Linked DNA regions of Homo sapiens: region 2 is linked to region 1. Evidence: fine-mapped expression QTL. Tissue or cell type: whole blood. Region 1 holds a variant in brackets; the other region holds the start of a gene. All regions are shown on one strand. Distances are between the middles of the regions.

Region 1 (7,061 bases):
GAGAGGTGGGCGGGCGCATCCCCATTCCATCGGATCCTCTGTTCCATTGTCTGTCTGTCTCCTGGACCCATCCTGGCCTCGTCTTTGCCCTCCGTCGCAGCCTGGCCTTGGGCCTGCCCTTCCCGGGGACACTCGGTCTGATCCCCTTCCCTCCTCCCTCAATGTCTCATGTCCCTGTCTGATCTCTCCCTTTCCCCTGCCCCACCGTCCCATCTGTCCCCACGTTGCCCCTCCCCCCAGGCCGGGAGCAGGCTGGGAGCCATGCGGGGGTGTGCGAGGGAGATGGATGCCACCCCGATGCCTCCTGCACCCTCATGCCCTTCGGAGCGAGTGACTGTGTGTAAGTGTGGTCCTCCTCTCACCACCGCCCATGATCCATCTTCCATGGATGGGGGGTTGCTCAGGAGATGGGATGTGGGGAGACAGCCACGCTCCTGGGGGGCTGAGTGAAGGGGAGGCCACGGCAGGAGCTCACCTGCCTCCACAATCAGTCTGTTTTCTTACCATTCCTATCCAGAACCGACCACCTCCCATGACCCACCCCAGCCCCCTGAACCCCCTTCATGGACAGATCCCCCACAGCCTGGGGCAGAAGAGGCGTCGAGGGCGCCAGAAGTGGCGGCAGCAGCAGCCGCAGCAGCCAAAGAGAGGCAAGAGAAAGAGAAAGCGGGCGGTGGAGGGGTCCCGGAAGAGCTGGTCCCCGTGGTTGAGCTGGTCCCCGTGGTTGAATTGGAAGAGGCCATAGCCCCAGGCTCAGAGGCCCAGGGCGCTGGGTCTGGTGGGGACGCGGGGGTGCCCCCAATGGTGCAGCTGCAGCAGTCACCACTAGGGGGTGATGGAGAGGAAGGGGGCCACCCCAGGGCCATTAACAACCAGTACTCCTTCGTGTGAGCCAACCCCACCCGCTCCACCCTTTTTAAACCCCCCAGCCCTGCTCGTGAGATTGGGCTGGGTAGGGACAGAGGAGGCCGAAATCCCTCCCCCATGCTTCCTGACCCTTGTTGGCCAAGGGCATCTTTGATGGTACAAGCAGAGGCTCGGGAGAGGCTCCCGTCACACACTACAGGTCCCCTCCCCAGGGCAGGGGATTTGGGCTCCATGAGCTCCTTGAGGGGCTCTTCTGGTCAGCCCCACCCTGGGGGCCATTTCCCCATTAACTACCCCCAGCCCGAGGCAGGGTGAGGGGGAAGGGCTGTCAGTTACATTAAGGTGGTTGTTGTTGTTGTTTTAAACAAAATGGAGAAGCATAAATAAATAAAAAGGTTTATCTCGGTTCTATCGTGATGGCTATGGCCATTGTTTGCTGTGGGGACTGGGGACAGTTGGGTTGGGAAGGCAGCCCACTCAGTGCCCACAGGCCAGAGGGCTGGCCCAGGCCAGTCCCCATCATTCTGCAGTGCTGTGCTTTCGGAGCCATCCCTGTGTCTGACAGCCTTGTTCGTGGAGCACTAAATGATGCTCTTGGGGTCTCCTGCGAGTTTTTGTCATGGGACAGTGCTGTGAATGGCAGGCATGGTGATCTCCAGCGGCCCTTCCTGAGTTATGGCTTTGTACCCTAGAGAGAGCTGGCAGTGAGAGATGGGAGGCACGGTGGCTGTGCTGGAAGAGATTGAACGTGGCAGTCACAGGGTAGCCGCAGAGGGGCCCAATGGCCCCCTTCTCAAAGCCAGGCTGGAGGGATGGCAGAGGGCACTAGCTTCTGTCCTGGCCTTGCCACTCACTGGCCTGGGCAAGGTGTAGCCACGCCGGGCCTGAGCATCCTCATCTGTGACATGTGAAGTTTCATCTTGAGTCAGAGCTGCTGACATGGTTTGCTTGGCCTGGACATGGTGTCCATTTGAGTTTCACATTAAAAATTCAGATCACAGGCCAGGTGTGGTGGCTCACGCCTGTAATCCCAGCACTTTGGGAGGCCGACGTGGGTGGATCACCTGAGGTCAGGAGTTTGAGACCAGGCTGACCAATGTGGAGAAACCCCGTCTCTACTAAAAATACAAAAAATTAGCCGGGTGTGGTGGTGCGCGCCTGTAATACCAGCTACTCAGGAGGCTAAGGTAGGAGAATTGCTTGAGCCCAGGAGGTGGAGGTTGCTGTGAGCCAAGATCGCACCATTGCACTCCAACCTGGGCAACAGAGCGAGACTCTGTCTAAAAAAAAAAAAAAAAAAAAAAAAATCACTGGCTTCTCTTAAAAATCAGAAGATCCAGTGATGTGGGTCCACTTCCACATCTGCCCCATCCCCACCAGCTCACTTTGCTCCCTGGGAGGGCCTGGCCCTGTGGGCATTTGAGTTTATAACACCACCCCCATTGTGGCACACCCCTCCACCCCGTAAAACACAGGCTCTGCTCTTGGAATCAGTCTTCCTGATCTGTGGCTGTGCCCTCCAACAGAGGGCACCCCTGGGCTTCCCAGCTCTGGGGGTAGTGGGTGCCAACAAGGAGGGGCCTGGGGCTGAAGAATCCCACCCGCTGAGCTCGGCCTTCTCCCTTCCCCACTGTCCAGCTCCGCCTTTCAGCATCCTGCCTCACTCCCCGCCCAGGCAGCAAGGAGCCCACACCCTCATGCCCCTCAGCTTCAGCCCCCACCTCCAGGAGGCCCTACCCACGCTCATGACCTTGCTATTCTGGGCCTTGTGTCCTGTAGGGAGATGGACAGGAGACAGCTGGGCTTCCAGGCCACCCAGGCGGGGGGCTAGCCGAGGGAAGCCTGCTGGCTCTCCTGCTTGCTCTAATTTCTGGGGCTCCCCAAACCTTGGCCTCAGGAGACTGGGGATAGGACCGGCCTTGAAAGTGGGGGAAGCTTTGGAGAGCCGGGTGCTGGGTTCTTAGTGAGATGGCCAGTGAAGGCTGTGGTGCCCCGAGGTAAGCAGGGCCTGATCCCCTCCTAATCTTCCAGCAGCAACTGGTGCTCTGAGGCTCCCCCTCCCCCAGCCCTGCCAGCCTTCAGGGACCTGCCTTCCAAAGATGGGCAGGGGAGGGGGACGAGGACACCCACCCACTCCTCAGACCAGCATGTCTTGGCTGTTGGGGCCTGAGAGACTTTCCCTCTAAGCCTTTCTTTACAGATGGTTAAACCGAAGTTCTGCACTCATCAGGGACTGGCCAGGGTGTCTCTGTGTCCCATGCTTTTAGCTCCAGCCCTCAGGTGTGACAGGAGGATCACTTTCCATCCCTGGGCGTGGAGACCCCTGTGGGAAGGGATCCCCGAGGGCGCCTCTGGCTCAGCCTCCCTCCATGGCAGTTCACACCCACAGCCTTCCCTAGAGCAGCCCTTCTGCAGCTCCTGGCGGGTGGCTTTCCCTCCCTGGCTTGTTTCCCCCTCTGGGAAGCCGGGGGAGGTAGAAATGAATAACCTTAAAGGCCTGTTGGCAGGAATGTGCTGCCAAGCCTGCCCCCTGCCCTCTGTCTCAGGCTCTCGACTCCCTCGAAGCTGCCCATCTCTCCGTCTGCCCCTCTCCATGTTTGGGCATTCCCACTGCTGTAAGACAGTAGCCCCTGTCACTCCTCCAGGTGCCGGTGGGGAGACGCCGGCCAGCGCCAAAAGCCTTGGCGGGTGTGAGCCTGAGTCCAGCGGAGACGGTGGGTGCTGGGCCGGGTGGAGGTGCCGGGGGCTGTGTCTCTTGGAAGAGAGGCTGCTAATGCTCTCCTGCACCCCCAATTCAGCCCACTGTCCCCCACTCCCCTCAGGTCACAGCAGGATTCTGCTTCAGGGGAGGGGTTTGTTGGAACTGTGAAAAGGAGGCAGGAAGGAGCACCTTGTCCTCAACTCACCCAGGAGGCCGCGCCTCACCCAAGTCCAGGCAGAAGGGATGCATCTGGGAGGCTGAACCCTCAAGTTCCATCCACCCCTGCTGCCATCCCCCTCCCCAAAAGTGGGGGCCTCCCTTTTCTTTGCTCTGCTGTCTCCTATTCTGTCCTCTGCTTCGGAGTTTGAGCCCCAGAATGGAAAGCAGCCTTAAGAAGCCACACTTAGGAAGTCCACATGCCTCTGCTCATTTCAGGAAACAGGCCTAGACAGAGGACGGACTTGAGCCCAGGGCACCAGGCCCCTTCCCCTCACTGACCTTTCACCCTGACTCTCATCCAGCCTTTCTGCCTGCCTGTCCTCCCCTTCCTGCACCCCTGGTACCCTCCCTCGGCTCCTCCAGCAGCTGCC[C/T]TGGTGGTAACCAAGAGACGCCCCCATCCTGGAGCAGGGGTGGGGAGGGGCAGCTCAGAGCAGCTGCTTCTCTGAGGAAGCTGACACCAAGGCCAGCATTCAGCAACAACTTGTGGCTTTGCACCCAGCGCCGGGGTCCCCGCCCACCTGGCTCCCTGCTGTCCCTCTTCCCCACTGCTGCTCGGACTTCCCTCTGACCCTGGTGGCTCTGTGTCTCTGCTCCCTTTCCCCCTAGGTCTAGACATCTGTCCTTATTTCCCCCAGACCTGTCCCCAGAAGTCCACCCTTCCCCATTCCTTTGGTCTGGAGCCCCTGCTTGGTCCAGCTTCCCCAGGCCCCGACACCTTTCTGTGGGGTCTGCCTAGCTCCTGCACGCACACAGCATGGGCCTGATCCTGTTCCCCTCGTGGACAGATGCAGCAGGGCAGAGTGCAGCGCAGACCACAGGCCTCTGGGGCTGGCCACAGAAACCCCGTTGGTTAGAGCACAGTGTGGGATGAGGTGACCCTCAGTGCACGACTTGGGGTGACCCCTGCCCCCATCCTGAGACAGTTACCCCTCCCCCTCTGCCATCAGCACATTCTGTAGCCTCTTGGGTTACTTGGCTGCCTTGGTGTCCCATTTTCTTGGGGGTGGGGTGGGGATTCCCTATCCAGGATGGGGGGGCCCTCAGGGCTCTGTTCCCAGAGGCTGAGTTAGAGCGATGGGGAAGGGGGGGGGCAGTTTTGGGGAGAGACAGGCAGTGCTGGCTTTGCTCACCAGGGCCTGGACACTAAATCCCTTGTTGATGGCTGTGGCAACCCCTCCCTAGGGTAGGGTTACCATCTTCGGCCCTGTCCCCTTGACTCTCTCCCCTCACTTCCCCTTGTCCCTCTAGGAGCCACTCACTTCCTCTAGCCCCCAAAAGATGTTCTCCCTTCATCAGTCCCCCAAAGGCTTGGGGTATCTCTGCCACTGCTTCAGCAAATGGGGTGAGGAGGAAGGAGACTGCGGCAATGGAAACAGGCTCCGGGCAGATGAGGCAGGAAGGGGGGTGTGAGGAAAGGGACAGGTGAGGCCGGGGATGGAAGAGGGCTCCGGGAAGAACTGGGGGGATGAGTTTGGAATGGGAAATTCAATGCAGCTGGGGAAGTCGAGGCAATGGGGGGGCAGGGTCAGTAGCAGATGACAGAAAGTGAAGTCTCTCCCTACCCCACTTCCCTGGGGCTGGGGCTACCTTTGCGTCCCTCATGAGTGACATCTCAGGCTGCAGCCCCACTGTTCCCCCTCTGTCAGCAGAAATATCTCTCTTTTCTGACCACCTCCTGCTGGAGTCTCAGCCAGCCAATCCCTGATCTGGTGGAGGGGGGAGCCCGGCCTCCCCCTGCTCCCTCATAAGGACCAGCTGGGGGCCGGGGGGTGGCCGGCTGCTCAAGTGGGACGGGGGTCAGAGCTTTGTGGAGGGAAGAAAAACCTGGAGGGGGCAGGAGAGTAAAAAGAAGAAACCCAGGCAGACAGGCAGTTGGACACACTGAGGAAGACCCCCCACGAGTGGGAACCCCCTGGAAGGAACACACCGGCCCCGGCCCCCAGGAAGGGAGCACAATGGAGGCCGCTCATGCTAAAACCACGGAGGAATGTTTGGCCTATTTTGGGGTGAGTGAGACCACGGGCCTCACCCCGGACCAAGTTAAGCGGAATCTGGAGAAATACGGCCTCAATGGTAAGTGTCCCTTGGAAGAGCGGCTGGTAATTAATGCCCTCCTGCACCCCCAAAACACACGCACACGCATGCACGCGTTTCTCCCTTCAGGGTTTCTTAAGGAAGAGCTGGGCCGTTGTCCAATGCTCGCAGGGGGAAGAAGATACTGAGAAAACAGAGTCCCGAGATCCAGAGTTTTGGGAGGTTTTAATGGGATGAACTTGATGAACCTCAAGGTGGCCTGATTCTCTTAGCCACAAAGTCTTGGGTGTGGGGGGCATGAGGCTGAACCCCAAATGAATCTGTCCTTTTCTTCTTTTTCCTGGGTAGAGCTCCCTGCTGAGGAAGGTAAGTTACTGGAATCCCTGAACTCTCATAAATGACCACCCCCCACCCCGCCCTGTCCCACTCCCTCCTCCCTGCCTCTTTAGATTCTTTGAGCAAATATCCCTTCCCAAAAGGCAAATCTCCCTCCCTAAAGGTTAGAGTCCTGTCCGGGGCAGAAGTCTCCCAGGCGCTTTCTCCTTGAAGCAGCCAACCCTTGAACTGCCCCCCACTTTGCCGAGTCTGTTTCTGGACTCCAGGCGAGCTTCTTAGCCCTTCTCTGGGCACCAAGCTGTCTGCCCACCACCCTAGAGCCTCCCCACTGCAGGCCGGAGTCCAGGGCGCTCCATCCCAGACCTTCACCCACTAGACCTTAACCCGGGGCCCTCCCCTTGCCTCCTCCCCCAGGGAAGACCCTGTGGGAGCTGGTGATAGAGCAGTTTGAAGACCTCCTGGTGCGGATTCTCCTCCTGGCCGCATGCATTTCCTTCGTAAGTGTGGGAGGGTCTCTGGGGGCTGGCTGGGGGTGTGAGGCTGGGATCGGGCGAATGCGGGGCTCGCAGTCACTGGATCCTCCCGTCCGAGTCCCGAGCATCCCATTGTACAGACGGGGCGGGCTGGCGCGCAGCAGCGGGTGTGATTCGCGTCCTCCTCTCTCCTCCCCTGCACCCCAGAGGCAGGTTTTATTTTAAGCTTTAAGGGTGTTCTCAGCCAAAACACCGAAGCTAAGCCACCCTCGCGGCTTCAAGAGCTTGGAGAGCTCGGGTTACCCACCCGAACTCCGGGCTCCGGGTCCCGCCGCGATGCCGGCTGCGGCGCGGGGGGCCACTGCCACTCCCGGCATGCGCCGGGCGGACGGCCGCTCCACCAATCCCCGCGCCCGTCGGCGCCCCTGCCC
Region 2 (6,031 bases), 29 kb before region 1:
GCTTCAAGCCTCGGACCAGGGCCCCGAGGTTATCTCCGGCCTCGGCCCTCTCCAGGCTCTTGTGGAACATCTCAATGCCTAGGACGGAAAGGGAAAAGGAGCAGGGAGAAGGAAGGCGAATGTGAGACAGAGGGAAGGCACAAGGGATCTGCCGGGGTAAGGCCACCCTTCAGCCAGGCCCTGCTCTCCAGACTGGCTTCCCAAACCTGTCACCACAGTGCGGATGTTCTTGCTATGTCCTAGGAGCTCACACTCGTCTCCCTTCTTTAAAATGCCACGCTCTAGTGTACCTGTCACCACGGTGCCACGGCCTGGGAGGGAATAAGACAGGATATCAGGGACCCCGAGCTAGGCTTCTGCTAGAGAGAGTGCGTGGGAACAGACAGAGTCCTCACCAGGGACGGAGTACACCGCCTCCACAGGCAGCAGGAAAGGCTTCTCCAGGTCCCGGGCGGGCACTGGGATGTAAGTGTCCACAGCATCCAGTAGCTTCTGCACAGACTTCAGGCCTAACTCAGGGTCCCGACCCTGTTGAGGGGAAGTGCCAGGACTCTGAAATCCCCATTCTACTTCCCTCGATTATCAAGAGCCACTTCCCAGACACAAAGCAGAGCTCTGGGTGCCCATCCAGCCCCACCCTCTGCAGCAGCTGCCCTGCCTGACCCCGCGTTCACCTCAAGGGCACAGAGAGCAGAGCCTACGATGACTGGGGTCTCCTCCCCTTTATAGCCAAACTCGGTGAGCAGCTCCCGGATCTCCAGTTCCACCAGTTCCACCATCTCAGAGTCCTGGACAGCGTCAGCCTTGTTCACATACACCACCACATGCTCCACCCCAATCTGTAGATGCCAGAGAGACAGGGACAATATACAGAGGGGCCCAACTCCCCACTCTTCCCTTTTGCATCCTTACCCAGGCTCTGAGTACCTGTCTGGCCAGTAATAAGTGCTCTCGGGTCTGGGGCATGGGGCCGTCATTGGCTGCTACCACCAGGATGCAGCCGTCGAGGGGTGCAGTGCCTGTGATCATATTCTGGAGAGGAGAAGGAAAGGAAACAGCCAAGTTCAACGAGCTCTTCAGTTCACATCCATATAGCCAAGTGTAGCAGTTAGAAACTCAGGCCCACCTTTCTCTACCATCTCCTCACCACCCATTCTGCGTGGCCAAGACCACAAACCTGCCATCTCATACCCAAACACTGAATATCTTAATCTCCTCCCCACAAGCCTAACATTTATCCTGACAAGAGGCAGCTTCTGGCCCTGTCTCCAGTGTCCCAGCAACCCTCACCTTAACATAATCTGCATGACCCGGGCAGTCTGTGTGGGCGTAGTGGCGGGCGGCAGTGCTATACTCCACATGAGCCGCATTGATGGTGATACCCCGAGCTCGCTCCTCCGGGGCATTGTCAATCTCCTCGTACTTCTTGAACTTAGCCCCACCTCCCTCAGCTAGAACTAAAGGAGGAAAAGAACACACCTCTCAGCTAAAGTTCCAGTGCTAGAGGCAGAGCTTAGACCACGCCCCTGAACCCTCCCACCTAAATACATAACCTCCTCCAATCTCTAACTCTTCCAGCAGAGAGAACTGTGGGTCAGAAAGAAATGTTAGAGGGCCTTAAGGGTCTGCCCTGTGACTTCTTTAGGGTACAGCCTCTGCTTGCAGAGCATTCCCCACGACTTTGTGATCCCCAAGCCATTGGTGGATCACAAAGTTCTTCCTGTTCAGGAGAAATTTGTCTCTTGCATCTCCCAATCCACCTGTCGCACAAATTCGGGCTCTTGGGGCCACAGTAAACTCCTCCAGCAGACACTCTGCTGGCCTTGCCTCCCTGGCTCCAGGTCCCATCAGTAGATAGGGCGCTGCTGGACGCCCCAACCCCACTCACTCTTCGTGATGGCTGCAGTCAGCGTGGTCTTCCCGTGGTCCACATGGCCGATGGTACCCACATTCACATGTGGCTTGTCGCGCACGTAAGTCTTCTTGGCCTCCACGGCCAGGCCGCGGCACAAGAGAGGCAATGCCGGGGCTTTCAGCAGCCGCAACAGACCCTGCAGCAGGAAGGTCCGGCCGGCGGCGAGACCTGCCGGGACCGAAGCTTGGAGTCAGGCAGGGAAGGGGTCAGACCGAACCCAGCCACCTACCACTCCCCCAAAGTGTTCCTGGGCCGCCATCGCCCTCCCTGACCACTCACCGCTGAAGTGGGGCGTCGCGCGCAGCAGGGTGGCGGCCGCCATTGTGGTCATACTCGCGCCCCGGTAACCGGGGAGCCGGGACCAGGAGCCCGAGCGCACAGAAGAAGAAGGGCGCCTGCGGCTGGAAGGCACTTCCGGCGGAAGTTAGAGCTGGGAGGGCAAGTCCGGGCCCCTCTAGCCGCCAGTGTCTATGGCCGTCTCAGCCGACGTCGGGCGCGCGGCTGAAGACGTCATGGAGGGGGCTGGTGTCTCGAGGGCGGAGTATGATGGAGAGGTTTTCCACCACTCGCGCCTCTCGGGCTGAGGGGCAACGTAGTTCTCTCTGGCGGTCGCAGGGGGCACTGAGGAGCGTCCCCTAAATCACCGGCGCCGCGAAGGCTCATGGGCGTAGTAGTTCTCAGGTCGGCGGGCTGTGGAGGTGATCAGAGTGGGAGTCAGGCGGGCTAGGCCGGACCCGGAGGGAGGGGCTCGGGCTCCGGGAGGCAGCTGCGGCTCCGACTGCTCAGGAACCTCCTCCTGGGCCCGGCAGAGAGAGACCCCGAGTCCCCCGGAGTCCGACTCGCTACGCGGGTCTTGCGAGATATCTGGCCGCCTCTGCCGCAGCTGGAGGTAGGGGACCAGGTCCTGGACGCCTTTCGGGGATGGGGTGAAGTGTGACCTCCCTCTTCGCTGAGACTTTGTTTTCTAATCTGTAAAATGGGAATAGTAGTATCCACTTCATAGGGAGAGCCTGACATCTAGCCCTGAGAGGAGATGAACTGGGTAGGAGTCAGTGTTGGGCCCTGTGAGGTCAGGCAGCTTGCGGGGACCCTGTACTGCTAGACCTCACAGGGCCAGAGCCCACAAGACAGACAGCTTCGCTGCCCACCCCTGTAGTCCCTCAGCAGCCTAAGGAGCAGTTCCGTTGGGCATCGCCCCACCCATCTAATTTTGCAGATGAGGAGCCAAGGATGAGGAGCCAGCTAGGGGAGCCTTTAAGGGGAGCCTGAGTCTCCTTTAATCTGTCGGTGTCCCCAGCACCTAACAGGGTGGAGCATGCAGTGAATGTTGAATGAATGGGTGCAAGGGTAGTCAATGTCCCTTAACTTTCACATCCATCATCTCATGGCAGCTTCCACAGGGCACTCCAAAGTGTTAATTATGGCTGCTTAACCCTGGCTAATGTTTCGGAACTCATCAGATCCTGAGACTCAGTGGACAGTGTTTGTTTCAAATAGATTCCCTAATTCCTCCCCTGGAGGTTATGATTCCGTGGGGTCTATGCACAGACTGGGAAGCTATATAACAAACACTCTTCTAAAACTGAGAAGAGGCTGGGCACGGTGGCTATAGTGCCAGCCTATAGTCCCAGCAGTTTGGGAGGCTGAGGTGGGAGGACGGTTTGAAGCCAGGAGTTCAAGACCAGCCTGGGCAGATTAGGAGACCCTATCTCTACAAAAAAAAATTTAAAATTAGCCAGGCACAGTAGCATGCAGCTATAGCCCCTCCTACTCAGGAGGCCGAGGCAGGAGGATCGCCTGAGCTCAGGAGTTCAAGGCTGTGGTGAGGTATGATCATGACACTGCACCCCACCGTGAGTGACAGAGAAAGACCCCATCTTTTTTTTTTTTTTTTTTTTTTTTTTGGAGACAGAGTCTCACTCTGTCGCCCAGGCTGGAGTGCAATGGGGCGATCTCGGCTCACTGCAACCTCCACCTCCTGGGTTGAAGCAATTCTCCCACCTCAGCCTCCTGAGTAGCTGGGACTACAGGCATGTGCCACCACGCCTGGCTAATTTTAGTATTTTTAGTACAGATGGGGTTTCACCTCGTTGGCCAGACGGCTCTCGAACTCCAGACCTCAAGTGATCCGCCCATTGTGGCCTCCCAAAGTGCTGGGACTACAGGCGTGAGCTACCACGCTCAGCCAAGAAAGACCCCATCTCTATAAAAATATTTTGGCCAGGCGTGGTGGCTCACACCTGTAATCCTAGCACTTTGGGAGGCCGGGCGGGTGGATTGCTTGAGTTCAGGAGTTCGAGAACAGCCTGGGCAACACGGTGAAACTCTGTCTCTACTAAAATACAAAAAATTAGCTGGGCGTGGCAGTGTGCACCTGTAGTACCAGCTACTCAGGAGGCTGAGGCAGGATAATTGTTTGCACCCGGGAGGCGGAGCTTGCAGTGAGCTGAGATGGTGCCACTGCACTCCACCCTGGGCGACACAGCGAGACTCCGTCTCCAAAAAAAAAAATTTTTTTTCAAATGAAAACTCAGAGGAGTTTAGGAAACTCTGAACTAGAGCTTTATGATGTTCAGGCATTCCTATTGTTTCACAATCAGCGCTCCCAGTGCTACCCTGGGTAGTAGGAACTATTATTTCCTCCATTTTGCAGGTGTGAAAACTGACGGTCAGGGTGATTAAGGAATCCACCACCACTAAACCCCAAAAAGTGTGCACACCGCACTGTCCTTTTTTTTTTTTTTTTTTTTTTGAGACAGAGTCACACTCTGTTGCCCAGCTGGAGTGCAGTGACACGATCTCGGCTCACTGCAACCTCCATCTCCCAGGTTCAAGCGATTCTCCTGCCTCAGCCTCCCGAGTAGCTGGGATTACAGGCGCCTGCCACCACGCCCAGCTAATTTTTGTATTTTTAATAGAGACGGGGTTTCACCATATTGGCCAGGCTGGTCTTGAACTCCTGACCTCAAGTGATCCACCCACCTTGGCCTCCCAAAATGCTGGGATTATAGGTGTGAGCCACCATGCCCAGCCAGACTGTACTATAATTTAACTCTCATTTTACTGCTCAGATAAAGTGAGGAACTTGCTAAGACTTCTCTCTTCCTGGCCCTCCAGTTAATCAGTTCTGCTTAGGAAAGGCTGGTATCATGTGTAGTATAAACAGATTTTGTTTTTGTTTTTTTGACAGAGCCTTGCTGGGTCTCCTAGGCTGGAGCATAGTAGGGCAGTCACAGCTCACTGCAGCTTCAGCCTCCCAAGCTCAATCTACCTCAGCCTCCCAAATAGCTGGGATTACAAGCATACACCACCACACCTGGCTAATTTTTGTATTTTTTGTAGAGATGGGGTTTCGCCATGTTGGCCAGGCTGGTCTCCCAATACCGGGGCCCAAGCCGTCTGCCCACCTTGGCCTCTCAAAATGCTGGGATTACAGGCATGAGCCACTGTGCCCAGCCTAAAAGGGTTTTCTGTTTCTACTCTGTACCTAAGTCACTGTACTCCTAGGAATTTATCCTAAGACACTATTGGCCACTAGCAAGTTATGAGTTTTTGGGGGTGGTATTTGAATTAATGGTTTATATTTTTGTGGTGCTATATTTATTTTAATGTGTATTAGCTTGAAAAAAAACTGGCATAATAATCAAGTTTTTAAAAAAACAGATCAACTTAAAAGAATATTGTTTGGTAGATAATATTATGGATGCACTGGGCACAATGGCTCACACCTATAATCCCAGCACTTTGGGAGGTCGAGGCAGGCGGATCACTTGAGGCCAGGAGTTCGAGACCAGCCTGGCCAACATGGTGAAATCCCGTCTTTACTAAAAATACAAAATTACCTGGGCATGGTGCACGCCTGTAGTCTCAGCTACTCAGGAGGCTGAAGCAGGAGAATCGCTTGAACCCAGGAGGCGGAGGTTGCAGTGAGCCGATATCACGCCATTGTACTCCAGCCTGGGTGACAGAGCGAGACTCTGTCTCAAAAATAAAATAAAAACTATTATGTGTGGTATGAATATATGGCAAATTTTTTGGAAGGTAGTGAATGAATGGCTAGAGTTTGAGAAACACGGTGTTCGGAAAAGAGCCCAGAGAAAATTTTTTCTAGAGCTG

What was found. PIP is the estimated chance that this variant, and not a neighbour inherited with it, causes the effect.
Region 2: it holds the start of TUFM, and the variant in region 1 is fine-mapped to the expression of TUFM in whole blood (INTERVAL, PIP 0.97).

Annotation. Positions count from the first base shown.
Region 1 is chr16:28,872,930-28,879,990 of GRCh38, forward strand. SH2B1 (SH2B adaptor protein 1) reads left to right here. Exons shown (of 8, transcript NM_001387430.1): 8 at 518-1,276. The coding sequence ends at 891. It overlaps ATP2A1 (ATPase sarcoplasmic/endoplasmic reticulum Ca2+ transporting 1), which reads left to right and starts at 5,559. Exons shown (of 23, transcript NM_004320.6): 1 at 5,559-5,860; 2 at 6,170-6,187; 3 at 6,572-6,654. The coding sequence starts at 5,743. It overlaps ATP2A1-AS1 (ATP2A1 antisense RNA 1), which reads right to left and starts at 6,992. Exons shown (of 2, transcript NR_046290.1): 1 at 6,613-6,992; 2 at 6,028-6,175. RefSeq lists enhancers at 1,024-1,524, 1,525-2,025, 4,530-4,599, 4,610-4,699, 5,945-6,718 and silencers at 6,789-6,838, 6,859-7,061. The variant C/T (reference allele first, on the strand shown) is at 4,159.
Region 2 is chr16:28,844,024-28,850,054 of GRCh38, forward strand. It overlaps TUFM (Tu translation elongation factor, mitochondrial), which reads right to left and starts at 2,325. Exons shown (of 10, transcript NM_003321.5): 1 at 2,195-2,325; 2 at 1,889-2,083; 3 at 1,291-1,457; 4 at 928-1,032; 5 at 675-839; 6 at 396-528; 7 at 207-311; 8 at 1-78. The coding sequence starts at 2,246. It also overlaps a transcript of SH2B1 not described here. RefSeq lists an enhancer at 2,187-2,676.